4 separate regions of the Homo sapiens genome follow, and regions 2, 3 and 4 are each linked to region 1. The links come from fine-mapping of genetic effects on gene expression. A gene starts in region 1. Each other region holds a variant in brackets. All regions are shown on one strand. Distances are between the middles of the regions. Region 1 holds the start of MYOM2 (myomesin 2). Region 2 has its middle 42 kb from the start of CLN8. Region 3 has its middle 75 kb from the start of MIR7160. Region 4 overlaps MYOM2 (myomesin 2).

What was found. PIP is the estimated chance that this variant, and not a neighbour inherited with it, causes the effect.
Region 2: its variant is the best candidate, but not a certain one, in a credible set for the expression of MYOM2 in ovary (GTEx, PIP 0.90).
Region 3: its variant is the best candidate, but not a certain one, in a credible set for the expression of MYOM2 in tibial nerve (GTEx, PIP 0.72).
Region 4: its variant is the best candidate, but not a certain one, in a credible set for the expression of MYOM2 in thyroid (GTEx, PIP 0.52).

Annotation. Positions count from the first base shown.
Region 1 is chr8:2,041,123-2,048,854 of GRCh38, reverse strand. MYOM2 (myomesin 2) reads right to left here and starts at 3,809. Exons shown (of 37, transcript NM_003970.4): 1 at 3,687-3,809.
Region 2 is chr8:1,717,561-1,725,292 of GRCh38, reverse strand. No RefSeq gene overlaps it. Among named protein-coding and RNA genes, the nearest start is that of CLN8, 42 kb to the left of the region's middle. The variant C/T (reference allele first, on the strand shown) is at 3,459.
Region 3 is chr8:2,147,919-2,155,650 of GRCh38, reverse strand. No RefSeq gene overlaps it. Among named protein-coding and RNA genes, the nearest start is that of MIR7160, 75 kb to the right of the region's middle. The variant G/A (reference allele first, on the strand shown) is at 3,589.
Region 4 is chr8:2,122,390-2,127,389 of GRCh38, reverse strand. It overlaps MYOM2 (myomesin 2), which reads right to left. Exons shown (of 37, transcript NM_003970.4): 29 at 4,025-4,138; 30 at 3,748-3,835; 31 at 3,173-3,211. Among named protein-coding and RNA genes, the nearest start is that of MIR7160, 48 kb to the right of the region's middle. The variant A/G (reference allele first, on the strand shown) is at 1,952.

The DNA of each region.
Region 1 (7,732 bases):
TCGCGCCACTGCATTCCAGCCTGGGTGACAGAGCGAGACTCCATCTCAAAAAAAAAAATAAAATAAAAATAAAAAATAAAATAAATAAATAAATAAATAAAAGCATATCTCCTCCACCCGCCCTGATATTGAAGGCAGTATCATAGTGCAGAGGTCAAGCGCCCAGGTTTTGATGTCTGGTAGACCTGGGATCGAATTCTGACTCCAGCATTCTGATGAGGCCTGGGGTAGCTTCTAGCTCCTCTAGCTCTGGCGTTCCATATTGAATCTGCATCATGCCTGGCCCTGGCCCTGGTACCGAAATCGGTTGCTGTCTCTGTTATGCTGCTGCTGTTATCATGGTTCAAGAATTCTGCAGACAGGAAAAGGTATCTGAGAAAATCTATGTATTGCTTCACTATTTGAAATCTCCCCAGATGCAGCTCACTGGGATTTTCCAATGAGTTAATCAAGGTGGATCTTCAAGAAACGCTTCCTGCTCAGAAACCCATTTACTCTCTCTGGAGTTCACCAGCAGGGTGCTGGGAAGAGCTCACTGAAATGAAGTTGGACCAAGGTTGGGGAAGACGTTTCAGCTTCCATCCGGTTTCCTATCCAAGGTTCTTCTGGGATCAGCCTGACGAATACCAGGCAATTCCACTCCAGCAGACGCATGAGCAATCCCCAGTACCTGCTATTGCAGCAGGGGCTCATGTGTCATCACAGTATCTACTTACACTTATGTTGAGTTAAACCTCAGATGTGTTTGTATTTCTTGGTAAAGGGAAGAGTCAAAATGTGACCTATTAGGTCAAAGGAGAGAATGAGCTACATTGAAATAAGAGGAGAATCGCCCTGGATGGAAATCCTCCTCCTTAGACCTAAGACCTGGAAGAATGTGAAACGGCTCAGGTCTTGAGAGCTCACAGACTAGCTATCCTTCAACCAGTCTGTAACGTCCTGTCCAATGCAACCTATGTATCACTGACGTGACATCCGGTCCTGTGGGCCTGGAAGTCTTCAAACACTTCATGTGTGAGGGGCTACACTTTGTAGTGCTTAGCAAGGCAGAGCTGGGATCACGTGTGCACACTTCCTGCAATCCTCACTCCAATGGTACCTTACTGTGGAAGTCTCCCCGGGAAGTCTTTGGATGGGGGTAACAGGGCACTTTGCCACGTTTATCCCCACATGTATTCCCTGCTCACTTCATGCTCAGGACCACCAAAATCAGGAGGTGTCAGAGGCTTTGCAGAATCCATCAGCCTCAGTTGATTCCACAAGTATGGGGTCACTTGCAACGTGCCAGCCAAGCCTAAATCAGAACCCTTGGATTTCAACAATGAAAACACCTTAGAGCTCCTGGCTCGGGAGAGTAGCAAGCTCAAGTCTTCTGCGCATTTGACTCCCAGTGCCAATGTGCCCTCAACTCCACTTTTATCAATCACATGCCCAACCCAGAAAACCAGCAGGACTGCACGTCCAGCCTCACCCACCCTGAATGTGTGTCCCCTCCGCAATCTCTTCACTCCTTGGGGGACTTCCTATGTTAGAACTTCCCCAGTGTCCCTCACCCAGCCTGGGCCACCACCTCCTGGCCGGGTGTGATGACGTCTTTGCAAGCAAATCCCCACTGACTCAGCACGTGCTGGGTGCCTGCAGCCCTGGCAGCACAGGGCCCTTCTGAGTGGAGGGAACCCTGGAGAGGACTTGCCAAATGCACCCTACAGGTGGAGCATCCCTTATCCAAAATGCTTGGACCAGAAGAGTTTCCAATTCCCGATTTGTTTTTCAGACTGTGGAATACTTGCATTTATACTTACTGGTTGAGCAACTCAAATCCAGAAATTGGATACTTGAGATGCTCATGTAAGCATTTCCTTTGAGAGTCATACCAGCGCTCACAAAGTTTCAGAATTTAGAGCATTCTGGATTTCTGATCTTCAGATTTGGAATGATCAACCTGTACTATTTATGACACTATAAAGAAAATGACAGGACCTGGGCCGATCAGCTCCCCAATGTCCCTCTACTGTCTACATAGAAAGCTGTTTTCCTTTTTAAGGAACTATCTCAGACATGTGTTAAATACCCCCTACACACACCAACCAAAAAAAAAAAAAAGAAAAAAGAAAGAGAGAGAGAAAGAAAGCAGCTTTTCCTCGCAGGGTAGTTTTTGATGTGAGTCCCTGGGGCTCAGGCGCATTGGGAGGCTGAGACTCCAGTGGGGACCTGCTGACCTTCAGCTCAGGGGCCTCCACCTGCTCTGCTGTAAAACAGGGGGCTGAGTGAGGTGGCAGCTAACAGTCCCCCAGCTTGGACAGCCTGTGTGTAGATAATCCTGGCGCCACGCTGTACTGTTAGCACAGACCGTCCCCAGGGAAATATGACTTGCCCGGGTCACCGGTAGGGCCACGGCCGAACCCAGGCGCCAGCTGACTCTCCTGACAGCGTCCAGCCCACTTTCCACCACAGCCCAGCTCCCCGGCCACTCCCGGAATGCTCCTGACACGTTTAGGAATCATGACACCAGGATGAAACGCGAGCCTCTCCTCCAGTGCAGGGGACCACGTGTCTGATATCCCCATCCTAATTCCTTCCTGCAAACAACGTGTGGAGCCCATTCCTCATGTCACCAGGATGGGTTTTAATTTGCAAAAATGTTTGAAGTACAAAACATTGACTTCCACTTAATGAAGGAAATTGTTTGTACAGTTAAAAATGTCAAAGTCAATAAATACACCAAATTAAAGCTTTCTAGAGGGGAAAGGGACTCCCAGACACGCAGCGTTGGCCTGTGCCACAAGTGGCTAAGCCCTTGGCTCCCAAGACAAGTTTTAGCTTGGGACTTGGTTTATTAAATAACGCCTTAAATTATCTTTGTTCCACGCTTTCTTTGAGTCCTGTTTTACTTCTACTTAGTAAGAAAGGAATGTGAAATGGAGAATTAGAAAAGGCCAGGTGTTCCCAGTGATGGCAAACCCCTTCCTTCCGTTTGCCTCCGGTGCCTTCCACGTGCAACCACCCAGCCCCACTGTCTTTCTCCAGCAGGTTGCATTTCAAGAGCACGCCCTGAGAAGGCACAGCCTCTATCAGCGGAGTGGAGCTGAAGAAGTCTGAAGGGTCACAACACACCCAACAGCACAAAGAAGAAAACAGCCGTAAGAACGCTGTCATTTTTGGGCAAAAACTTGCAAGTCCTGACAAGGATTGTTCTCTTTCCCATACCGTGGATAATATAGGCTAGGTCTAAGCTGAATGACCCTCGACTCTTTTTTCCCTTAAGAAAATATCCAGTTTTATTATTTCACACCTTTATAAGTCAGCCCTCTCCTCGGGGGAGGCTTTCGTTTCTGAGAATCTCATGAAACTTGCAGACATCAGTCCACTGACTGGGGGGCCCCCTGGGGCCACGATGAGACCAGGGCTAAAACCCAAAGCACACGCCGCAGGGTGCTAAACGGCACTTAGCAAAGACCACGGCTGTGGGAAATAAAATGTTAGTTGAGCATAAAACCTCGTCAAAGAAATACAGATCCCAGAACTAATTGCTCTGTTTTCCACAGTAAAGGGTGCCTGCGACGGGGTGCACTGGCTCTCTCTTCTTGACCCTGAAGTAGAGGTACTTAGAAAATGTGAGTGCAGAAGTTACCGGTCCTCCCCTTAAAGCCACAAATTAGAAAAGGCAAGAAGAGAAAGACACTTACCCAGACAGAAAGGAAAATTGCAAGGAGGAGAGAGAATTCCTGACCACCGGCTCACCAAGCCACCCACACTCCAGCCGAGGAAGGCAGAGCTGACTCCTGCAAAGCAAGCGCCTGTGCCTCCCTCCCGTTTAAGGTCTGAGGAGCTACTATATATAGACGCCTGGGCCTGCCTCTCCCCACATCAATACCCACATCGTAAATCACCAGCCTGACCTCAGGAGGAAAAGCTTCTTGTTCAAACTGAGGGCGGGGGAAATCACGATTCAAAACTGGAACGTGTCCTTTCTGAGTCCCAAACTGCACTTTTCCCAGGAAACCGGGTGTGACACTTCAGCCCCCGACCCAGAAAGAGAGGGCAGGGCACTGACTTCCCACGCTCCCTCCCCGCAACTCTCCTCCATGAGTTCTAATCCTTACGTGTGAATTCTCAGACATATCTTCAATCCTTTCGAGCTACAGGTTCCCTGGCTCACAAATTGCAACTCCTGAATGAGTCTTTAATAATGACATGGATTTCAGTGAGCATTTGTGCCATTCGCAGGCCTGGACACCCGAGTTGAGGTCGGCTGTGGAGGGAGGGAGGTGCACAAGCCCCTGGGTTTGTGAGCGTGTGTGTGCATGTTCGTGTGTTTGTTCGTTTTTTTTTTTTTATTTCAAGAACGACTCAGGTCTTCACTCGATTGTATCTTAGGGCTATTTTAGCAAGAACTGCCTACCCAAAAGAGGAGCGGTGCCTAGTCGGCAAGTCGGGGCTTATTTATAGCCATTACCACAGACGTACACTGCGTCTACACCACACGGATAATTGCAGGGTGCCCGTCGTTTCGCACAGCGTGTGTCCAAATATAGATAACACACACCTGGCACGGTCCTGGGCTGCAGCCTGGCCAAGAGGCGGGGCCTCAAGGGGATGCCCCCATCTGAGGACCCGGAGAATCACACTCCAGCTGCACCTCACCACAGGGGCTGAGGACTTCGGCCAGCTGCTCAGCCCACGGGGGCTATGCTCCCCAGCTCTAAAACGCATGGAATAACAACTTTCCTGTAAGTTTGTTGTGACAAGTAGAGAAAATATGATAAGAGAATTGCCTTAAGAAACTCCACGTTCTCACACTGGGGTATCAGAGGCACAGCCAAGGACCAGCGAGCAGGTGGATGGAGGCGAAGATCAGATACGAGAAAGACGCGAGCACAGCCTCTTGCTGGGCCCCAGAGCGTTCTGGATGCTGGATCAGGAGGCGAGTGTTTCTGTCTTCTTCCCCTTCGTATTCTGATGGCCTAGCATTTAATTTAATTAGTGTTTGTTGAGTGATTTCTTAGTCTATTCAGGCTGCTTTAGCAAAACACCATAGACCGTGTAGCTTATAAAACACAGGAGCTTCTTTCCCACAGTTCTGGGGACTGGAAGTCCAAGATCCAGGTACCAGCAGACACTGCCTGGGGAGAGCCTTCTGGTTCTGGGACGGCGCGGTCCCTGAGTCCTCACCAAGTCAAGGGGCCAGGCCGCTCTTGGGGCCTCTGTATGAGGATACTGATCCCACTCGGGAGGTTCCACCTCCATGACCTTGTCACTTCCCTAAGGCCCCACCTCCTCACACCATCGTTTTGGGGGTTAGGGTTTTAACCCACATATTTTGGGGGGGTTGCAAACAGCAAGACCAGAGCAAGCAATGTTTACTTCCGGTTTATCAGCATCTCCTTCTCTAGCGAATCCATTTCTCAGGGACCTGGGGGACTTCCCTTCAGCCCTTCTGCCCCCCTGCCTCTGAGTGTGGCCGACACTGGAGGGGCAGTGATGGTGCCTCGTCCCCTCAGGTGGCATCTCAGTCCTCTGAGTCCCAGTCCTGGCATCTCAGTCGCCTGGGTCCCAGTCCTAGCATCTCAGGAGGGGACAATCTCATCCCGGGGAGGGGCCTCTCCTGAGAGAAGGAAGGGCCAGCACACTCCTCCTCCTTTTCTGACATTTCACGGTGGCTGTGCCCTCCTTCTGTGATATAGAAATCCAGTGCTGCGTCTAAGAAAGCCTGGATCTTTCAGCCACACCACCCAGAGAGCAGAGTGTGACCCGGGACACAGATAGGCTCCTGATGGGGACAGAGCTTCGCCTTCTGCTGGGGACAGGAGACCCCTCCCCACCCTCCTCGTAGACCCCCATCTCCCTGAGCCATGCCTGCCCCTGCCCACCCGGGATGTAGCTTCCAAAACTCCCTGGGTGAGGTGCACCTGCAGGAAGCCTGGAGCCAAGAAGGGACAAAAGACGGAGGGAGGCGGTGGGACCAGGCATGGGCCCCGCATTCTCCACCAGACACACCAGCTCTGGGGCAGACAGGCTCCTTCTTGCCGGAGTTCCTTGGGCTGACTTTCTATCATCGGCCATCAAGAGAATCCTGACTAAGACAAAGGAAGAGTCCAGCAATCTCATTTCCACAGCTCAAATTGGCAGCCTGTGAATGGAAAACAGTTGGCCTCACTGAGGATTTCCCACAACATAGAAAAGAAGATCGAAATGCAAAGAGTGACATTCTAAAACCACGTGCCTTCAATCCTGTGGAACCCCAGGCCAGACCATTCATGGGTGAAGTTATGTTCTATACAGCAACAATCCCCAACTGTTTTGGCAACAAGGACCGGTTTCGTGGAAGACAATTTTTCCAAGAACGGTGGAGAGGGGGATAGTTTTGGGATGAAACTGCTCCACCTCGGATCATCAGGCATAAGATTCTCATAAGGAGCGTCCAGCCTAGATCCCTCGCGTGTGCAGGTCACAGTAGGGTTTGTATTCCTGTGAGAATCTAAGGCCGCGGCTCTGAGAGGAGCTGGAGCTCCGGCGAGAATACTCAGTGGCCGCCATTCACCGCGCCATGCGGCCCAGCTCCTCACCGGCCACGGACCCCGAGGCTGGGGTTCAGGACCCCTGTTATATTGCACAGAGCCAAAACTGACATTCGATTCAGGAAAATCAGTTTGGATATTTGAAAGAAATAAAATTATTCTTAAGATATTTTGTTCACTTCCATGCATTCCGTCTCAGAAAACAAATTTTCTGTTTTTTAGAAATTATTTTAGAAATTATCCATGTATTTTAGAAATTATCCATCCCATGTATTTTAGAAATTATCCATCCAACAGGCCAAATATTCAGTTTTATGATTCAAAGGATGACAGCTCACCAGAAAGAGGCTTCGCAGTTGCAGCCACAGCACAGGGAGGGGCAGGGGGTCACCCTCCGTGCTCTCCCAAACCAGGGGGTGATGAGGCCAACAACAAAGGCGTCTGGTCCCCACAGAGCACGTGTGCACAGGCCGCAGAAGGGAGACTGGAAAATCTGGAGGCAGAAAACTCCCTTGAGGGCATCAGCCCCCATCAGCACTGCCTCTCATTCCCAAATCCTGAAAACCTGAATCTCAGAAAACAGCCCCACTTTAAAGAAAAGAGTTTTTTTCTTTATTTTTATTGACTGATGACTGATTGATTGAGATGGCGTCTGGCTCTGTCGCCCAGGCTGGAGTGCAGTGGTAACCTCCGACTCTTGGGTTCAAGTGAGCCTCCCACCTCAGCCTCCCAAGTAGCTGGTATTACAAGTGTGTGCCACCAGGCCCGGATATATATATATATATATATATATATATATATATATATATATATATATATATATATTTTTGGTATTTTTAGTAGAGACAAGGTTTCACCATATTGGTGAACAGGCTGGTCTCGAACTCCTGTCCTCAAGTGACCCACCCATCTCGGTCTCCCAAAGTGCTGGGATTACAAGCGTGAGCCACCATACCCAACCTTGTTCCTTTTTTCTGCCTTTAGAATGTCTTTGTTCCTATTTATGGTTGTGCAGTTCTGTATTTAGAATTTAAACCTCAAGAAAATCACATCCACTTAGATGAATTAACTGTAATGTTTAAATGTGAACCTTCTGAAAATGTTGATTGTGAGAGTAACCTTGTTTAGAGAAATACAATTGTCACCTTCTTAATTTCCAAGAAGTTCAATAGATGTCTCTTTGAGGCCATGCTTAATCCACTAATTGATGAAAT
Region 2 (7,732 bases), 320 kb after region 1:
GTCTTGCTTTGTCATCCATGCTGGAGTACAGTGGTGTGATCTTGGCTCACTGTAGCATCGACCTCCTGGGCTCAAGCGATCCTCCTGCTTCAGCCTCCCAAGTAGCTGGGACTATAGGTGCCGCCACCACACCTGGCTAATTGTATTTATTTTTTGTAGAGTCAGGGTGTCTCTATGTTGCCCAAGCTGGTCTCACATTCCTGGGCTCAAGTGATTCTCCCACCTCAAACTCCCAAAGTGCTGGGATTACAGGAGTGAACCACTGTGCCAGCCAGGCCATGATCCATTGTTAATAAGACTTTGTGAAAGGTCTAAAGTCTAAATCTAGATTCTTTTTTTTTGTCTGTGGCTGTCCAGCTGTTCTAGCACTATTTGTTTAAAAAACGATCTTTTCAGCACTGACTTGCATTTGTTCCTTTGTCAAAGATCAGTTGACTACATTCATGTGGGTCTGTTTCTGGGTTCTCAATTCTGTTTCATTGATCTGGTCTGTTATTTAGCAAATCACACACCATCCTGATTGCTGTGGTGTTAGAGTCAGACTCGAAGGTGGGAAGTGTCACTCCTCTGACTTTGTTTTCCTCCCTCCCTATTTTGTTGGCTGTTCTGGGTCTTTGCCTCTCCATATAAACTTTAGAATCCGTTTGTCAACAGTCACAAGGTAACTTGCTGGGATTTTTATTGCAGTTGCATTAAAGATGTTTTGAAATTTCAGATTCCAATTGTTAATGGCTTCTATGTAAGAAAGCAATTGATTTTTCATATTAACTTTTTATCCTGCAACCTAGCTGTAATTGCTTTTGGTTCCATGAGTGTTTTTTTGTTGTTGTTGTTTCTTTGGTATTTTCTACAGACAATTGTCATCTGTAAACAAAGACAGATTTTTAATCTCTTCCCAATGCGTGTGCCTCGTCTTTCCTTTCCTTGCTTTATTGTGTTAGCTGGGATCTTCAGTGTGATGATGAACAGTAGTGGTGAGAGGGATGTTCCTGCCCTGTTCCTGATCCTACTGGGGAGCCTTCCAGTTTCTCATAATTAAATAGGGTGCTTGTTGTAGACTTTTGCAGATGCAGATTTTTTTTTTTTTTTTTTTTTTTTTTTTTTTGAGACGGGGTCTCGCTCTCTCTCCCAGCCTGCAGTGCAGTGGCGCGATCTCAGCTCACTGCAAGCTCAGCCTCCCGGGTTCACGCCATTCTCCTGCCTCAGCCTCCCGAGTAGCTGGGACTACAGGCACTGGCCACCACGCCCGGCTAATTTTTTGTATTTTTAGTAGAGATGGGGTTTCACCATATTAGCCAGGATGGTCTCGATCTCCTGACTTCGTGATCCGCCCGCCTCAGCCTCCCAAAGTGCTGGGATTACAGGCGTGAGCCACCGCGCCCGGCTGATGTTCTTTATCAAGTTGAGAAAGTACCCTTTATTCCGAGTTTGCTGAGACTCTTCACTGTGAATGGTGTTGGGTTCTGCCAAATGCTTTTTCTGTATCTACTGATAAAATTTATGATTTTTTTCTTTAGCCTGTTGATGTGGTGATTACATTAATTGATTTTCAAATGTTTATAACAGTCTTGTGTACTGGGGATAAATCCCTCTTGGTTGTGGTATACAATTCTTTTTACATATCGTTGCGCTTGATTTGTTATTTTTGGGTTTTTCTTTTTTTGAGGATTTTGCATCTATGTTCCTGAGACATACTGATTTTAGAATTCCTTTCTTTTAATATCTTTGTTTGGCTTTGGTTTTAGGGGAATCCTGGCCTCAGAATGAGTTAGGAAGTAGTACCTCTGCTTCTATTTTCTAAAAGACATTATGGAGAATTGGTGTGATTCTTATAGTTACTGGTGAGTTTGGTGGAACTCAACAGTGACCTCATCTGGGATGGGTGCTTTCTGTTTGGGAAGAAGGTTATTTAATTTCTTTAATAAATACAGTCCTATTCAGAATACATATTTCCACTTAGGTGTGTTTTGTTGGATTGTATCTTCCTAGGAATTGGTTCATTTCGTCTACGTTATCAAGTTTATAGACATTAGTTGTTTATACAATTCATTTTTTTTTTGAAACAGGTTCTCTCTCAATCACCCAGGCTGGAATGCAGGGGTGCAATCGGGGTTCACTGCAGCCTTGACCTAGTAGCTGGGACTGCAGCTACTATATCAGGTGCATGCACCAGAATCAGGTGCTTGCTACTACACCAGGCTAATTTTTTTAGATTATACTTTAAGTTCTGGGGCACATGAGCAGAACGTGCAGTTTTGTTACATAGGTATACATGTGCCATAGTGGTTTCTGCATCCATCAACCCATCATCTACATTAGGTGTTTCTCCTAATGCTATCTCTCCTCTAGCCCCCACCCACCGACAGGCCCTGATGTGTGATGTTCCCCTCCCTGTGTCCATGTGTTCTCATTGTTCATCTCCCACTCATGAGTAAGAACATGAGGTGTTTGGTTTTCTGTTCTTGTGTTAGTTGCTGAGAATGATGGTGTCCAGCTTCATCCCTGTCCCTGCAAATGACATTAACTCATCCTTTTTTATGGTTGCATATTATTCCATGGTGTATATGTATCACATTTTCTTTATCCAGTCTATCATTTGTGGGCATTTTGGTTAGTTCCAAGTCTTCGTTATTGTGAATAGCGCCGCAATAAACATACGTGTGAATGCACCTTTATAGTAGAAAGATGTATAATCCTTTGTGTGTATACCCAGTAATGGGATTGCTGGGTCAAATGCTATTTCTGCTTCTAGATCCTTGAGGAATCGCTACAGTATCTTCCACAATGGTTGAACTAATTTATACTCCCACCAACAGTGTAAAAGCATTCCTATTTCTCCACATCATCTCTGACATCTGTTTCCTGCCTTTTTAATGATCACCGTTCTAACTGGCGTGAGATGGTACCTCATTGTGGTTTTGATTTGCATTTCTCTAGTGATCAGTGATGGTGAGCTTTTTTTCAATGTTTTTTGGCCGCATAAATGTCTTCTTTTGAGAAGTATCTGTTCCTATCTCCCACCTGTTGATGGAGTGGTTTGTTTTTTTCTTGTAAATTTGTTATAGTTCTTTGTAGATTCTGGATATTAGCCCTTTGTCATATGGATAGAATGCAAAAATTTTCTGCCATTCTGTAGGTTGCCTGTTCACTCTGATGATAGGTTCTTTTGCTGTGCAGAAGCTCTTTAGTTTAATTAGATCCCATTTGTTAATTTTGGCTTTACTTGCCCTTGCTTTTGGTGTTTTATTCACCAAAACTTTTTGCCCATGCCTATGTCCTGAGTGGTGTTGCCTAGGTTTTCTTCTAGGGTTTTTATGGTTTTAGGTTTTACATTTAAGTCGTTAATCCATCTTGAGTTAATTTTTGTATAAAGTGTAAGGAAGGGGTCCAGTTTCAGTTTTGTGCATATGACTAGGTAGTTTTCCTAGCACTATTTATTAATTAGAGAATCCTTTCCC[C/T]ATTTCTTGTTTTTGTCAAGTTTGTCAAAGATCAGATGGTTTTAGATGTGTGGTGTTATTTCTGAGGGCTCTGTTCTGTTCCATTTGTCTATATCTGTTTTGGTACCAGTACCATGCTCTTTTGGTTACTGTAGCCTTGTAGTATAGTTTGAAGTCAGGTAGTGTGATGCCTCCAGCTTTGTTCTTTTTGCTTGTGATTGTCTTGGCTATGTGGGCTCCTTTTTGGTTCCATATGAAATTTAAAGTAGTTTTTTCCAATTCTGTGAAGAAAGTCAATGGTAGCTTGATGGCCATAGCATTGAATCTGTAAATTACCTTGGGCAGTATGGCCATTTTCCCGATATTGATTCCTGCTATCCATGAGCATGGAATGTTGTTCCATTTATTTGTGTCCTCTCTCATTTTCTTGAGCAGTGGTTTGTAGTTCTTCTTGAAGAGGTCCTTCACATCCCTTGTAAGTTGGATTCCTAGGTATTTTATTCTCTTGGTAGCAATCGTGAGTGAGAGGTCACTCATGATTTGGCTGTCGTTTGTCTGTTATTGGTGTATAGGAATGCTTGTGATTTTTGAATATGGATTTTGTATCCTTAGACTTTGCTGAAGTTGCTTATCAGCTTAAGGAGATTTTGGGCTGAGACGATGGGGTTTTCTAAATATACAGTCATGTCATCTGCAAACAGAGACAATTTGACTTCCTCTTTTCCTAATTGAGTACCCTTTATTTCTTTCTCTTACGTGATTGCCCTGGTCAGAACTTCCAATACTATGTTGAATAGGAGTGGTTAGAGAAGGAAGCCTTATTTTGTGCTGGTTTTCTTTTTTTTTTTTTTTCTTTTTCTTTTTTTTTAAATTATACTTTAAGTTTTAGGGTATATGTGCACAACGTGCAGGTTTGTTACATATGTAAACATGTGCCATGTTGGTGTGCTGCACCCATTAACTCATCATTTAGCATTAGGTGTATCTCCTAATGCTATCCCTCCACCCTCCCCCAACCCCACAACAGGCCCCGGTGTGTGATGTTCCCCTTCCTGTTTCCATGTGTTCTCATTGTTCAATTCCCACCTATGCATGAGAACATGCAGTGTTTGTTTTTTTATCCTTGCAATAGTTTGCTCAGAATGATGGTTTCCAGCTTCATCCATGTCCCTACAAAGGACATGAAGTCATCATTTTTTATGGCTGCATAGTATTCCATGGTGTATATTTGCCACATTTTCTTAATCCAGTCTATCATTGTTGGACATTTGGGTTGGTTCCAAGTCTTTGCTATTGTGAATAGTGGCGCAATAAACATATGTGTGCATGTGTCTTTATAGCATCATGATTTATAATCCTTTGGGTATATACCCAGTAATGGGATGGCTGGGTCAAATGGTATTTCTAGTTCTAGATCCCTGAGGAATCACCACACTGACTTCCACAATGGTTGAACTAGTTTACAGTCCCACCAACAGTGTAAAAGTGTTCCTATTTCTCCACATCCTCTCCAGCACCTGTTGTCTCCTGACTTTTTAATGATCACCATTCTAACTGGTGTGAGATGGTATCTCACTGTGGTTTTGATTTGCATTTCTCTGATGGCCAGTGATGATGAGCATTTTTTCATGTGTCTTTTGGCTGCATAAATGTCTTCTTTTGAGAAGTGTCTGTTCATATCCTTTGCCCACTTTTTGATGGGGTTGTTTGTTTTTTTTCTTGCAAATTTGTTGGAGTTCATTGTAGATTCTGGATATTAGCCCTTTGTCAGATGAGTAGATTGCAAAAATTTTCTCCCATTCTGTAGGTTGCCTGTTTACTCTGATGGTAGTTTCTTTTGCTGTTCAGAAGCTCTTTAGTTTAATTAGATCCCATTTGTCAATTATGGCTTTTGTTGCCATTGCTTTTGGTGTTTTAGACATGAAGTCCTTGCCCATGCCTATGTCCTGAATGGTAATGCCTAGGTTTTCTTCTAGGGTTTTTATGATTTTAGATCTAACATTTAAGTCTTTAGTCCGTCTTGAATTAATTTTTGTATAAGGTGTAAGGAAGGGATCCAGTTTCAGCTTTCTACATATGGCTAGCCAGTTTTCCCAGCACCATTTATTAAATAGGGAGTCCTTTCCCCATTGCTTGTTTTTGTCAGGTTTGTCAAAGATCAGATGGTTGTAGATATGTGGCATTATTTCTGAGGGCTCTGTTCTGTTCCATTGGTCTATATCTCTGTTTTGGTACCAGTACCATGCTGTTTTGGTTACTGTAGCCTTGTAGTATAGTTTGAAGTCAGGTAGCGTGATGCCTCCAGCTTTGTTCTTTTGGCTTAGGATTGACTTGGCAATGCGGGCTCTTTCTTGGTTCCATATGAACTTTAAAGTAGTTTTTTCCAATTCTGTGAAGAAAGTCATTGGTAGCTTGATGGGGATGGCATTGAATCTATAAATTACCTTGGGCAGTATGGCCATTTTCATGATATTGATTCTTCCTACCCATGAGCATGGAATGTTCTATGTGTTTGTATCCTCTTTTATTTCATTGAGTAGTGGTTTGTAGTTCTCCTTGAAGAGGTCTTTCACATCCCTTGTAGTTGTATTCCTAGGTATTTTATTCTCTTTGAAGCAAACGTGAATGGGAGTTCACTCATGATTTGGCTCTCTGTTTGTCTGTTATTGGTGTATAAGAATGCTTGTGATTTTTGCACATTGATTTCGTATCCTGAGACTTTGCTGAAGTTGCCTATCAGCTTAAGGAGATTTTGGGCTGAGACAGTGGGGTTTTCTAGATATACAATCATGTCATCTGCAAACAAGGACAATTTGACTTCCTCTTTCCCTAATTGAATACCCTTTATTTCCTTCTCCTGCCTGATTGCCCTGGCCAGAACTTCCAACACTCTGTTGAATAGGAGTGGTGAGAGAGGGCATCCTTGTCTTGTGCCAGTTTTCAAAGGGAATGCTTCCAGTTTTTGTCCATTCACTATGATATTGGCTGTGGGTTTGTCATAGATAGCTCTTATTATTTTGAGATATGTCCCATCAATACCTAGTTTATTGAGAGCTTTTAGCACGAAGGGTTGTTGAATTTTGTCAAAGGCCTTTTCTGCATCTATTGAGATAATCATGTGGTTTTTGTCTTTGGCTCTGTTTAATATGCTGGATTACATTTATTGATTTGCGTATATTGAACCAGCCTTGCTTCCCAGGGATGAAGCCCACTTGATCATGGTGGATAAGCTTTTTGATGTGCTGCTGGATTCGGTTTGCCAGTATTTTATTGAGGATTTTTGCATCGATGTTGATCAGGGATATTGGTCTAAAATTCTCTTTTTTTGTTGTGTCTCTGCCAGGCTTTGGTATCAGGATGATGCTGGCCTCATAAAATGAGTTAGGGAGGATTCCCTCTTTTTCTATTGATTGGAATAATTTCAGAAAGATGGTACCAGCTCCTCTTTGTACTTTTGGTAGAGTTCGGCTGTGAATCCATGTGGTCCTGGACTTTTTTTAGTTGGTAGGCTATTAATTATTGCTTCAATTTCAGACCCTGTTATTGGTCTGTTCAAGGGTTCAACTTCTTCCTGGTTTAGTCTTGGGAGAGGGTATGTGTCGAGCAATTTATCCATTTCTTCTAGATTTTCTAGTTTATTTGCATAGAGGTGTTTATAGTATTCTCTGATGGTAGTTTGTATTTCTGTGGGATCGGTGGTGATATCCCGTTTATCATTTTTTATTGTGTCTATTTGATTCTTCTCTCTTTTCTTCTTTATTAGTCTTGCTAGTGGTCTATCAGTTTTGTTGATCTTTTCAAAAAAAACAGCTCCTGGATTCATTGATTTTTTTGAAGGGTTTTTTTGTGTCTCTATTTCCTTCAGTTCTGCTCTGATTTTAGTTATTTCTCGCCTTCTGCTAGCTTTTGAATGTGTTTTCTCTTGCTTCTCTAGTTCTTTTAATTGTGATGTTAGGGTGTCAATTTTAGATCTTTCCTGCTTTCTCTTGTGGGCATTTGGTGCTATAAATTTCCCTCTACACACTGTTTTGAATGTGTCCCAGAGATTCTGGTATGTTGTGTCTTTGCTCTCATTGGTTTCAAAGAACATCTTTATTTCTGCCTTCATTTCGTTATGTACTCAGTAGTCATTCAGGAGCAGGTTGTTCAGTTTCCATGTAGTTGAGCGGTTTTGAGTGAGTTTCTTAATCCTGAGTTCTAGTTTGATTGCACTGTGGTCTGAGAGACAGTTTGTTATAATTTCTGTTCTTTAACATTTGCTGAGGAGTTCTTTACTTCCAACTATGTGGTCAATT
Region 3 (7,732 bases), 110 kb before region 1:
AGGGGTGTGACCGGGGGCTGTGACTGGGGAGTGTGACCGAGGGGTGTGACCGGGGGCTGTGAGTGGGGAGTGTGACCAAGAGCTGTGATCGGGGGTTGGGGGCTACAGCGGGGGAAAGCAGAGTCCCCTTGGGCACATGAATGCAGCTCGATTTGAGAACTGCTGACCCAACTTTTACAGAGAAGAAAACTGAGGCACAGAAAAAGAAAAGCAGTTTGTCCAAGGGTGTGGTATTTGTCTGTTTTCATACTGCTATGAGGACTGCCTGAGACTGGGTAATTTATAAAGGAAAAAGGTTTAATTGCCTCACAGTTCATCATGGTTGGGGAAGCCTCAGGACACTTACAATCATGGCGGAAGGGAAAGGGGAAGCAAGGTGCCTTCTTCACCAGGCAGCAGGAAGAAGTGCTGAGTGAAGGGGGAAGAGCCCCTTGTAAAATCATCAGATCTCATGAGAACTCACTATCAGGAGAACAGCATGGGGGAAACCAACCCCATGATTCAATCACCTCCACCTGGTCCCTGTCTTGACATGTGGGGACTGTGGGGATTCTGGGGATGACAGTTCAAGATGAGATTTGGGTGGGGACACAAAGCTGAACCCTATCAGGTGCAGAGCCAAGCCTCCAACAGAGCCAGGACCAAAGCTGGATTCTGTGTTCTTCCTGGTACACTCCGGGTTCATTGCTTTTTGACAGCAATATATTAAAAGAAATTATGTTTGTGTTACTGAGAAGCAGACTCACATCTTAGTAACATAAAAGCAGATATGAAGGAATGTGAATGATGAACCAGAGTGGAAGCAAAGAATTAAAGCAGTGCAGAGGCAGTGAGGGGCTGGGTGTTTCTTTTGGTGTCATAAAGTTCAATCAGTTTGGGATCTTTTATTTTAATTTTCATTTTAATGTACCTTTTTAATATTCCCTTTTATTATTCCCCTTCAATATACCTTTTAAATATGCCCCCCTTTAAAAAATATGGTCATCATCCTACAGGTAAAATGATGTCTAAATAAGATATTCATCTATTTTTAAGCCAGTGAAAAATGGGACTATTATATGCAATCTTTCCTTCCATTCATTGTTTAACTGCAGCTCAAAAAGGCAATTAAAAAAATAAAAATCACAAGTGTTGACCATGTTTAGCCTCTACAAAACAAAGCATAAGAGAAGTTTCTAATGGCTCCCAACCACTGCTTTTTCCCAAACATGAGGAAGTCTTTATGAAAATTGCGAGGCTGAACCACCATGGAGAAAAAGCTCAAGGGCAGATCAGGACACCAGGGTGAACACAGCTCCCTGAAGACCCAGAAACTCCTTTCTCAGGCCCTGCCTCACCCTGTGATAGCTTTGCAGTATCACATGCTTCATGTGAAATATTTCAATGCTGTAATTTACTGCTTTGAAAAATGAGTGAGCCCGCTCCCTTTGACATGCCTCTTTGAAACATGGAATATTTAAAATTCATACCCAAACTTAATGTATAGATAGATCACACATTTTTATGACTTCACTGATGTAATAAGAGCCTTGTAATATCTCAAAAGATACGTTTTATCCCTCCTAATGTGTATCATGTGCAGATTAAGAAGCTATATCATTGCCTTCAAAATGACCTGCTATTTCCTGGAAACTGTAATTTGCTGGACCTGTCCTTGTCACTGGGGTAAGTATAATGCCTTTAATAATCTTCCAGTCACTAAGTGATGTGTTTGCATCAAAAAGATGGATCTGGCTTGGCGGCAGGGGAGGCGCTCCATGTCTGTTCTCCCAGTGACATCTAGAGGCTTCACAGGGCCTGGAGCAGAGTGAAGCAGGTTGGAGGACTTTTCTCCAGGTTCACTGAATTTAGTCATAAGAATGTTTTAAAGGCTGAGAATGAGAGCATTTCAGGGCACGACTGCCTTATAGCATGACTCCCAAGTGGGGCAGACAAAAACCGGGTGAGAGGCAGCGTCCACAGGAAAGGATCTGGCCGAATCCTTTGAAGACACAGAGAAGCCACTGAGAGCTCTCCCATAAACCGCCACCCTCAGTTGAGCTCAAAACTCCAAGCCACTGCGAACCAGCCTCGGGAAGGCTTTTAAACAGAGTTCCTTTTCTAACAAGGTAGGCATCAAAGGTGATCTAAGGGAAGCAAGTGTGTTTTAAAAAACACCCTCACGCCTATAATCCCAGCACTTTGGGAGCTGTAGGCAGGTGGATCACCTGAGGTCAGGAGTTCAAGACCAGCCTGGCCAACATGGTGAAACCCCGTCTCTACTAAAAATACAAAAAACTAGCCAGATGTGGGGGGGAGGGGGCGGGCCCTGTAATCCCAGCTACTTGGGAAGCTGAGGCAGAAGAATCGCTTGAACCCAGGAGGCAGAGGTTGCAGTGAGCCGAGATCATGCACTCCAGCCTAGGCAACAGAGTGAGACTCTGTCAAAAAAAGAAAAAACAAAAAACAAAACAACAACAACCAAAAAAAAAACCCACCCCAGGTGGCCCATGCTTTCAGCCCGAGAGTCTCAGAAGAAAGCTCAGAGGCCCGTGTGACTGGCCAACATCCAGCCCACCTGCCCCAGGCCACACTGTGCTTGAAAGCTGGAGCGGCCAGCAGGGGCATCTCAGCACCAGGGAAATCGGCTGGACTTGACTCGACAGATCGCAGACTGCCAGCCAAGGGCTCCACACTGAGTCACCTCCTGTGTGCTGTGGTGCGCGTGTGCCCGATAGACAAAGGTAAACCTGGGTGTTGGTGATTTACTTTATATGGGAATCACAAATGTCATCTATAGTTTTATCTAGACATGTGTGATGGAGATACATACTTTGACCAGTTGTGTTAATTATTGCCAGCAATGTGTGCAAAAGTCAACTTTCTACTCCTAGAGGGACAAAACAATTTTGAAAGCAATGAGGAACAAGCCCAACTTTCCAACAGCCTCATTTTAAAAAGTGAATGTGCAGAGGAGGCCTAAAGACAGAGCGGATATATCCCTCAACATCTATAAGACCACATATAAGTGGGACAGGAGGAGAGACCCGCACTCCACATAAAAACTTCCATGAAGAGAAACGATAAACAGTGAAACAGGAGACGGAGCCCAGAAACACACCCGCACACATATGGTTGACGGTTTTTGACAAAATTGCTGAGAACACACAATGGAGAAAGGACAGTGTCCTCAATCAACGGTGTTGGGGAAACTAGATCTCCACAGGCAGAGGGTGAAATTGGCCGTTATCAGACACCATAGGCAAAAATCAACTCAAAATAGATTAAAGACTTCAACGTAAGACCTGAAACTGTGAAGCTCTAAAAGAAAACAGGGAAAAGCTCCATGACACTGGTCCAGGCAAAGATGTTTTTGGATATGACCCCAAAAGCACAGGCAACAAAAGCAAACACAAACAAATGAGATTGCAACAAACGGAAAAGCTTCTGCACAGCAAAGGAAACAACAGAACAAAGACGCTGAGGTGGATGGATCACCTGAGATCAGGTGTTAAAGACCAGCCTGGCCAATATGGTGAAACCCCGTCTCTACTAAAAAAACAAAATTTAGCCAAGCGTGGTGGCAGGTGCCTGTAGTCCCAGCTACTC[G/A]TGAGGCTGAGACAGAAGAATCACTTGAACCTGGGAGGTGGAGGTTGCAGTGAGACAAGATAGTGCCACTGCACTCCAGCCTGGGTGACAGAGTGAGACTCTATCTCAAAAAAAAAAAAAAAAAAAAAAGGAAAAGAAAATATTATCCAAAAATACATAAGGAACTCAAACACCTCAATAACAATAAAAGAAAGAACTCAATTAAAAACTGGGGCAAAGGCTCTGAAGAGACATATCTCAAAAGAAGATATCAGAATGGCCAATCTGAAAAAAAATGCTCAATATAAATAATCATCAGGGAAATGCAAATTAAAACTATAATGCGCTGTCACTTATACACAACTGTTCAGATGCTGTTGTCGAAAAGAGACGCCGCATGTTGATGAGGGTGTGCAGAAGAGGAACCCCTTGTGCTCTGTTAGCGGGGATGTAAATTAATACAGCCATCCTGAGGAGCAGTGTGGAAATTCCTCAAAACACTACAGATAGGATTACCATACGACCCAGCAATCCCACCTCTGGCTATGTACCCAAAGGAAATAAAATGAGTGAGTGGAAGAGAACCTGCACCCCGTGTTCATGGAGCGCTGTTCACGGTACCCAAGATAGAAAATCAACCTCAGTGTCTATCAAGGGATGAAAAGATAATGGAAATGTAGAAATGGAATACCAAAGTGAGCCTTAAAAAAGAAGGAACTCCTGTCCTTTGCGGCATCATGGATAAGCATGGAAGACATTCTGCTAAGTGAAATAAGTCAGGCTGAGAAAGACAAATACCACATCTTCTCATTCATATGTGGAATCTAAAAAACGTCAGACTCATACAAGTAGAGGGTAGAATGGTGGTTAAATGGTGGTTACCAGAGGCTGGGGCAAGGACCAGATGGAGAAATGAGAGATGACGGCCACAGGGTACCAAGTTTCAGTGGGATAGGAAGGCTAAGCTTAGAGACTGATCTCACACAGTGGTCAGTATAATAGATAATAATGCATTGTGTATTTCAAAATTGCTGAAAGAGCAGAATTTCAGTGTTTTCACCACAAAAAAAATGGTTAGTATGTGAGGTGATGGATGTGTGAATTAGCCTGATTTAGTTATTCCACATTGTAAACATATGGCAAAACTTCACAGTTCACCCTACAAATATATACTGCAGTTATTGTCAATTAAACATAAAATATTTAAAAAAAATCATGTAGACACACACGCACAAAGAGGATTGGTAAAGAATGGCCTAAAACTGGGAGGCTGAGACAGGTGGATCACTTGAGGTCAGGAGTTCAAGACCAGCCTGGCCAGCATGGTGAAACGCTGTCTCTACTAAAAATACAAAAATTAGCCAGGCCTGGTGGTGGATGCCTATAGTCCCAGATACTTGGGAGGCTGAGGCAGGAGAATCGCTTGAACTCGGGGGACAGAGGCTGCAGTGAGCTGAGATTATACCACTGCACTCCAGCCTGGCTGACAGAGTAAGAACTTGTCTTAAAAAAAGAAAAAAAACAGTTATATTCCTTTGTTGAATGTTGAATGTCATCATTACTGTAAGTGTGCTTTTATGAAATTTAATTTCTAAATCTGCTTATGGTTTCTAATCTTCTAAGTCCTGAAAGTTCCCGTGATGACTCCCACTGTACTCCTGGGTTACAGGTTTTGTGGGAAAAAAACAGCGCGCGCTTGGCCAGGTGCGGTGGCTCACCTGTGTAATCCTAGCACTTTGGGAGGCCGAGGCGAGCAGATCATTTGAGGTCAGGAGTTCGAGACCAGCCTGGCCAGCACGGCAAAACCCCATCTCTACTAAAAACATGAAAATCAGCCAGGCGTGGTGGCGGGCACATACAGTCCCAGCTACCTGGGAGGCTGAGGCAGGAAAATGGCTTGAACCCAGGAGGTGCAGGTTGCAGTGAGCCGAGATCAATCATGCCATTGCACTCCAGCCTGGGCAACTGAGTAAGACACCATCTCACCAAAAAAAAAAAAAAAAAAAGAAAGAAAGAAAAAAGAAAAAAAAAATGCACGCTCTGCCATCAGCCACATATTTGTCACCCATGGAGTGAGGCTGGTGTGGTCCATACATGACCTGTCCATGGTGCATATTTTCACTCTCAGCCAGTGAAACACACACAGAATGATCCTCCTTTTCCAAAAATGAAAGTGCAGCTGTGATACAGTATAAGGAATAGGTCTTGGCTTAATGTTTGTACAGTAAAGAAACTTTGTGTGAATCCTTTAGAAAGTAGCCAATTTTTTAATAAATGGTATAAATGCCTCTTCGTTTATCTGCAGTACATCTCACTGTTCCATATCCATTTAACATAAAGTGAGGTCTACTTAATCCTACAAAATAAATGGTGCCTCTGTTCCTGGGTCTCTCTATCTCTGCACGAAGCAGCACTTCCTCCAACATGTCCTTCCGAGGCTTGAAAAATAACGTGGTTCCCAGTACGGGGTCTTGGGCTCATTTTCTAACCTTACACAATTTCATTCTGGCCTGAGAAGGTAGAGTTGAAAGAAATTAATTGGCTTCAAAATTATTTCTTAAAAATGGGATATGATCACTTCTCTCCCTTTGGCTAAAATCAAGCATAAAAATTAGTCTATGGGCAGTTTTACTTACTTTTGTAAAATGCAAAATCCTTCTATGTCTCATATGAGCTGAACACACTAGCACATTCTCCAGGTAATAAGCAGGAATGAGTTAGTCTGCAAAAAATGTTTGTCTCACTCTTGTTAGCCCTTGACTCCATTTTGGAAGCCAATGACTCCTAACATTGTTAGTTTGAGGAACTATTGTTTTTTTTCATGCTGAGTCAAATTTCCACCATTTACACTCCCACAGACACAACCTTTACTCTCTTGGGCTCAGCATCTCCCAGGAAGATAACTTCTTCAGCTGGGCACCAGCAATTTTTATCTAACGATTCTCAAGAGGTGGCCACAGAAGCTGTTGAACTGATAGTCATTTTTAGCAGCTATTTGATTTATTTAAAAAGCCTCACTTCCACCCCGAAGCCCCGTATTTCATAATCCTGTGAATGTCAAACTCATTCTTTCTGTAACTGAGCTCTCAGAATACACATGCCATCACACACCCAGGACGTGCAGCCCCGATGGAGTCAGGAGACCCCTGGGCAGGTCCCGGAAGGAGAACTGCTCTGTGGAACAGCTGGCCTGGGCTCTCCAAAATTACCCGCGTCACTAATGACCAAGAAGGGTCTTCCAGAGAAGTAAAGCTGTGGCAACTAAACCCAACACGTGAGCCCAAACCGCATCCTGGACTCCAGCTGGGGAACGCCTCCAGGGACATTATCGGGATGACTGGCAAGGTTAGCATATGGACTGCAGATCACGCTGCTGTGTGACGGTCGGGTCCCTTGACTTTAAGAGCTGTGCTGTGGAAACACAAGGGAACACTCTGCTCCTTGTTCTTGGGAAAAAACCAAAGCACTAAGGGACAGAGAAGTGGGATGCCGACAACGTATGAAATGCATTTCCAAATGGCTCTAGGAAAATTTAATTTTTTCACAGAATCAATACCTCGGCAAATGACTCTGTACCCTCCTGGTGTCTTCCCGTTCCTTGTTTTGTGTCATCCTCACAGCTGTCAAATGAAACGACTCAGGCGAAGAGCTCCAACCACGGCCCTCTCCGTGCTGAGCATTCGCTGCCTCCACTGCCACATGCACGGATTCTTAAAAAGCGACGAAAGGGCGGAACCCTGACTTCCTCCAAGAGGGGCAAGCCCAGGACTTCCAGGCACAGGCAGTGGGCGACCTCGATGTCTTTCCAGGTGCTCAGTTCTCCGCATTCTGCCCTGAGGGAGTAGGGGTGATCCGACTGGCATCACATATCTTGAGATATTCATTTGCATAAACACAGCGGCACCCAGATCTTGGCTTCTAATCCCACCCTCCAGTAAAAGGAACCAGGGGTCCTTGGAGAAATGGGTCTAGGACTGGAGCAGGGAACGCACAGATGAGCCTGGGTGTCCTGCAGTGCCAGAAAACCAGGCTGTGCCCAAAGAGGCAGCTGTGAACAGACCCCGGAGGCCGGCAGAAAGGGCTCCCTGTGGCCAACACTGGAAAAACCTGAGCAAGAAAGTAGGCTGGGCGCGGTGGCTCACGCCTGTAATCCCAGCACTTTGGG
Region 4 (5,000 bases), 80 kb before region 1:
TGCGCAGGGAACCGAGTGAGCTCAGGACTTGGAGGGTCCCTGCATCTGGGCCGGCTGCAGACAGGAGGGTTATTGAAAATCTGTAAGGCAGAGATCCCTGACCACCATCTCCCCTCCCCAGTCAGGTGGGACTCTGTTTCCTCTACTCGGAGACAGGAGTTCACCCTTCAAGGAATCACAACTTGAAAAAGAGCTTGGGAACTGGGTGAAGTCAACACACTGCAGAGCCATATTCCCCCACCCGACCCCCCTTCCCTCTGCTCAAATTCCCTGACACTGACTCATGAGACCAACACCACCCTAACCAGGCAGAACACGGGAGGGTCGGAGCAGCCTGAGAGCAAAGCACACAGACCAGAAGCAGCTCCCCCAGCCTCTATCAGCCTCTCCCAGTGCTCCCCCAGCCTCCGTCAGCCTCTCTCAGTGCTTCCCCATCCTCCCCCAGTGCTCCTCCAGCCTCTATCTGCCTCCCCCAGTGCTCCCCCAGCCTCCATCAGCCTCTCTCAATGCTCCCTCAGCATCCCCCAGTGCTCCTCCAGCCTCTATCAACCTCTCCCAGTGCTCCCCCAGACTTTATCAGCCTCCCCCAGTGCTCCCCCAGCCTCCATCAGCCTCTCCTAGTACTCCCCCATCCTCCCCCAGTGGTCCTCCAGCCTCTATCAGCCTCCCCCAGTGCTCACCCAGCCTCCATCAGCCTCCCTCAGTGCTCCCCCAGCCTCCATCAGCCTCTCCCGGTGCTTCCCCAGCCTGTATCAGCCTCCCCCAATGCTCCCCCAGCCTCCCAGGGCTCCTGTGTATGAGTCTGTATGCATCAGTGTGTGAGTCTACACAAGTGTGTGCCCATATGAGTAAGTGTGTGTATGAGTGTGTGTGTCAGTGTGTGAGTTCACATGTAAGTGTGTGCATGTATGAGTGTGTGAGTGTGTAGGGTGTGGGTACACTGGTGTGTGTCAGTGTGTGTGTATGTCTGAGTGGGAAATCGTGTGTGTGTGACTGCTGTGTGAGTGTGGGGATGTGAGTGTGTGGGTGTGAGTGTGTTGACAACATGCCTTCCACTTCTTCCATTCTGATATGTCAGGGAGAGACTCCAGCCCATGGCGTCCAGTTTCCCATGAGAATAAAGGCTCCCTATTGATATGGGAAGTTCTGGGCCTGTCCCCTCTGTCCCTATCCAACTCCCAACATAATGTGCATGTCCCCTCAGCCGCTGCATCTCTGCTTCGAGGTGACAAGCACACAGTGAGGACTCTGCTTTTTGCATTTTCCTTATAAACACTCACTCTTCAAGACCTTCTGGTCAGTTCTATTATCCATGAGTGGCCCTTGGACACATTATGAGATATTTTAACACAAAATAATTTCATGAGTATAAGAGTAAAGCCACATTTTTACTACCCAAAGCAATCTAAAGATTGAATGCAATTCTTATCAAAATTTCGATGTTGTTTTTCACAGAAATAGAAAAATAATCCTTGTCCAGGCACAGTGGCTCAAGCATGTAATCCCAGCACTTAGGGAGGCCTCGGTGGGCGGGCGGGCGGATCACAATGTCAGGAAATGGAGACCATCCTGGCCAGCATGGTGAAACCCCATCTCTACTAAAAATGCAAAAAAATTAGCTGGGTGTGGTGATGCGTGCCTGTAGTCCCAGCTACTCTGGAGACTGAGGTAGGAAAATCGCTTGAACCCAGGAGATGGAGGTTGCAGTGAGCCGAGATTCACCCACTGCACTACAGCCTGGCAACAGGGAAAGACTCCGTCTCAAAAAAAAAAAAAAAAAAAAAAGGAAAAATAATCCTAAAAGTCGTATGCAACTAGGAAAGCCTCTAATAGCCTAAACAATCCTTAGGAAAAAGAACAAAGCTGGAGGCATCGCACTCCTGATTTCAAAATATATAGTTACAGAAACCAAAACAGCATGGCACTGACATTAGAACAGACAGATCGGCCA[A/G]TGGAACAGGATAAAGAGCCCAGAAATGAAACTAAATATTGATGGTCAATTGATTTTCAACAAAGATGCCAAGAAGACACAATAGGGAAAGACAGTCTCTTTAATCAGTGGTGCTGGAAACACTGAATATCCACATGCAGAAGAGTGAAATTGGCGCTTTAACTTATGCCACATGGAAAAATCAACTCAAATTGGATAAAAGACTTAAACATAAGACCTGAAACTGCGAAGCCGCTGGAAGGAAGCTCGTGGGGGAGATGCTTTGCAGCATGGATCTGGGCAGTGATCGCTTGGATAGGACATCAAAAATACAGGCAACAAAAGCAAAAGTAAATAAATGGTACTGCACAAAACTAAAAAGCTTCTGCACAGTAAAGAAAACAATTGACAAAAGGAAGAAAGAACCCATGGATTGGGAGAAACTATATTCAAGCTATGCATTGGCTAAGGGACTAATATTCAAAATCCATAAGGAACTGAACTCCACAGGAAAAAAACAAATAACCCATTAAAAATGGGCAAAGGATCTGAACAGATATTTCTCAAAAGAAGACAGAAAAATGGCCAACAGATACTTGAAAAATACTGAACATCTCTAATCATCAGGGAAATGCAAATTAAAACTGCAGTGAGATATCATCTCACACCTGTTAGAATGGCTATTATCAAAAAGACAAAAGATAAAACACTGGCAAGCAGAGAAAGGAACACTTGTGCATGATTGGTGGCATGTAAATTAATATAGCCACTATAGAAAAGAGTGTGGAGTTTCCTCCAAAAACAAGCTGAACTGACATGTGATCCAGCAATCCCACCTCTGGGCATTTATTTGTAAAGATAACATATGGTTTAATGTGTACGACGCAAAGTGAGAGGTTTAAAAATTCATTACGGCTATTCAACATATGTAAAAAGCTGCTCATAGCAATTATATACAAAGCAGTCATGCCAATTAACCTAAGACAGGATGGAAGAAGTGGCTAATCAGGACGCCCAACCTGAGTTTCTTAAAGTAAAACTCAAACTCCAGACAAAACTGAGGGAAGTCCTTTAAAAAGCTTCATCGGCAGCAGATCACCACCCTGCCCTTCCATCCAGGGCCTCCCACAGAACACGCACCACAGCTCCATGGTGCCCTCTTTTGCAGCAGTGACTTCCCGTGTCAGGAAATAGTGATTTCAGCACCCCAAATGACTTGAAAATTAAAAGGCATTTACTTACCACAGACTCTACTCATTGCCAAAATCATATCATCATACACTGAAAATGAGAAGGGATACGCACCATTACGACATGTAACTTTAACCGAAAGCAGCATTTTCAATGTTTAATTAAATCGATGCAGGAAATTGTGATGTTCAGTTGAAAAATGAATCATTAAAATGGCAATATTTATCCATAAAAGACTTATGTGTGCGATAAATCCTTCTAACCTATTCACTTTTAAAAAAGGATCAAGAACGTTTTACTCAACATAAATCCAACTCTACATTCAACTGAATCACTGCCTCAGTGTTTCCATCATTTTAACTGCATTAGTAATGCGTTGCTTGGCTTCTGATGATGGACCGAAATGACGTTTCATATAAACCCAGAGTAATATCATACATTATTCTAAAACACTGAAAAAACTCTGAAAGCAACCAAAGAACAAATAGTTTTTTTCTACAGTGTTACTGCTAAAGACACAATGTGTGCTATAGCTGAGGCTAGACATAGACCTGCCTTCAGAATACATCCCATCCTGTTGGTGAAAGGAATTTCTTGTTCACAGAACAAAGGAGGTTTTCTTTTACCTTTGCCAGCTATTTCAAGGATGGACACATCTTGGCCTCTGTCATCTTTCAAGGTTGCCTTGTATTCACCGTGGTCCTTCTTTGACAACTACAAAGAAAACACATTCCATATTTATGTAAAGTCAATACTGCAATCTTAGAAAACGTAATAAACTCTAATACATTTTCTTTGCAAACCACCGAAATTCAGGATGCAAATTAGAGGATTGTAGAATTTACGAGTTATTTGAAAGTGCCGTTTTTGTTTTGCTTTCTTGTGTTACTCAATGCCTGATACCTTTGGGATGAGGAGCTCACAGATTCCCCTCTCCAGGTTAGGCAGTGTCTCCGTTTCATACAGAACATCATCCTTGAGCCATTTGAAAACGGTTTCTTTCTTGGTGTTTGCAACCTGTGAGGTAGAAAGCTTAAGTTTAGTGTGTAAATCATTCTGACTCATGAGAAAAAGAAAGTCTATTAGAATCTTAAATCACAGAGCCCCCCCCTCAAAAAACCTTAGTTTTTACTATAGACAGTCTCAGACGAAGGCTTATGGAAAAGCTGTCGCTCCCAATAACGTCAAACACATTTCTAAATTCCAGCTTCTAAGAAAATTAAGTCCTCACAGTTGCTCACAGAAGGACAAATGATTCTCGTCATTCTAGTCCATGAAATTAGACTAGGCATAAAGATCTTTTGGTCTATATGAAATGTCATTAACAAAGACAAGTCTTAAGCAATATATATGGGGATTTCTGAATAATAGAGAATATTCTGAGGGGTCTGTAAAGCTGGTTGGCAGCTGCTCTTTTAACAGCATCCCATTTCAGGTACAGGGACACAAAGAAAATGAAATCTTAACACAAAAATGCTCACTAGAGGTGAGGACCTTCCCTATACTGAAATTCCTCACAATTCAATCGCTGGCTAGAAACTAAGCTTTGCGGAACTCCGAAGATAAATGAGCATTCCAATTCACATGCTCCGGCATTGGTCTGAGGGACGAGGAAGAATTCTGATTCAGCATGGCAGAATGTTTGAATCCCATGAGATTATACAAGTCTCACAATTCGATGTTCACATCCCATGTGAATTCAAGAAGAGTGATGTTGATGACAAAAGAATGAAAATGATTCAACAGTGTCATCAGCTCTGCTAGAGTAACAGTGCAACACAGCTTAGAATTTCCACATCCGCTATGGGAAATGGCATCGTTCTCGACAGCACTGGGACTGAATCTCTGTGAAGCAGGGGTTTCGTCTGTTTCACTAACA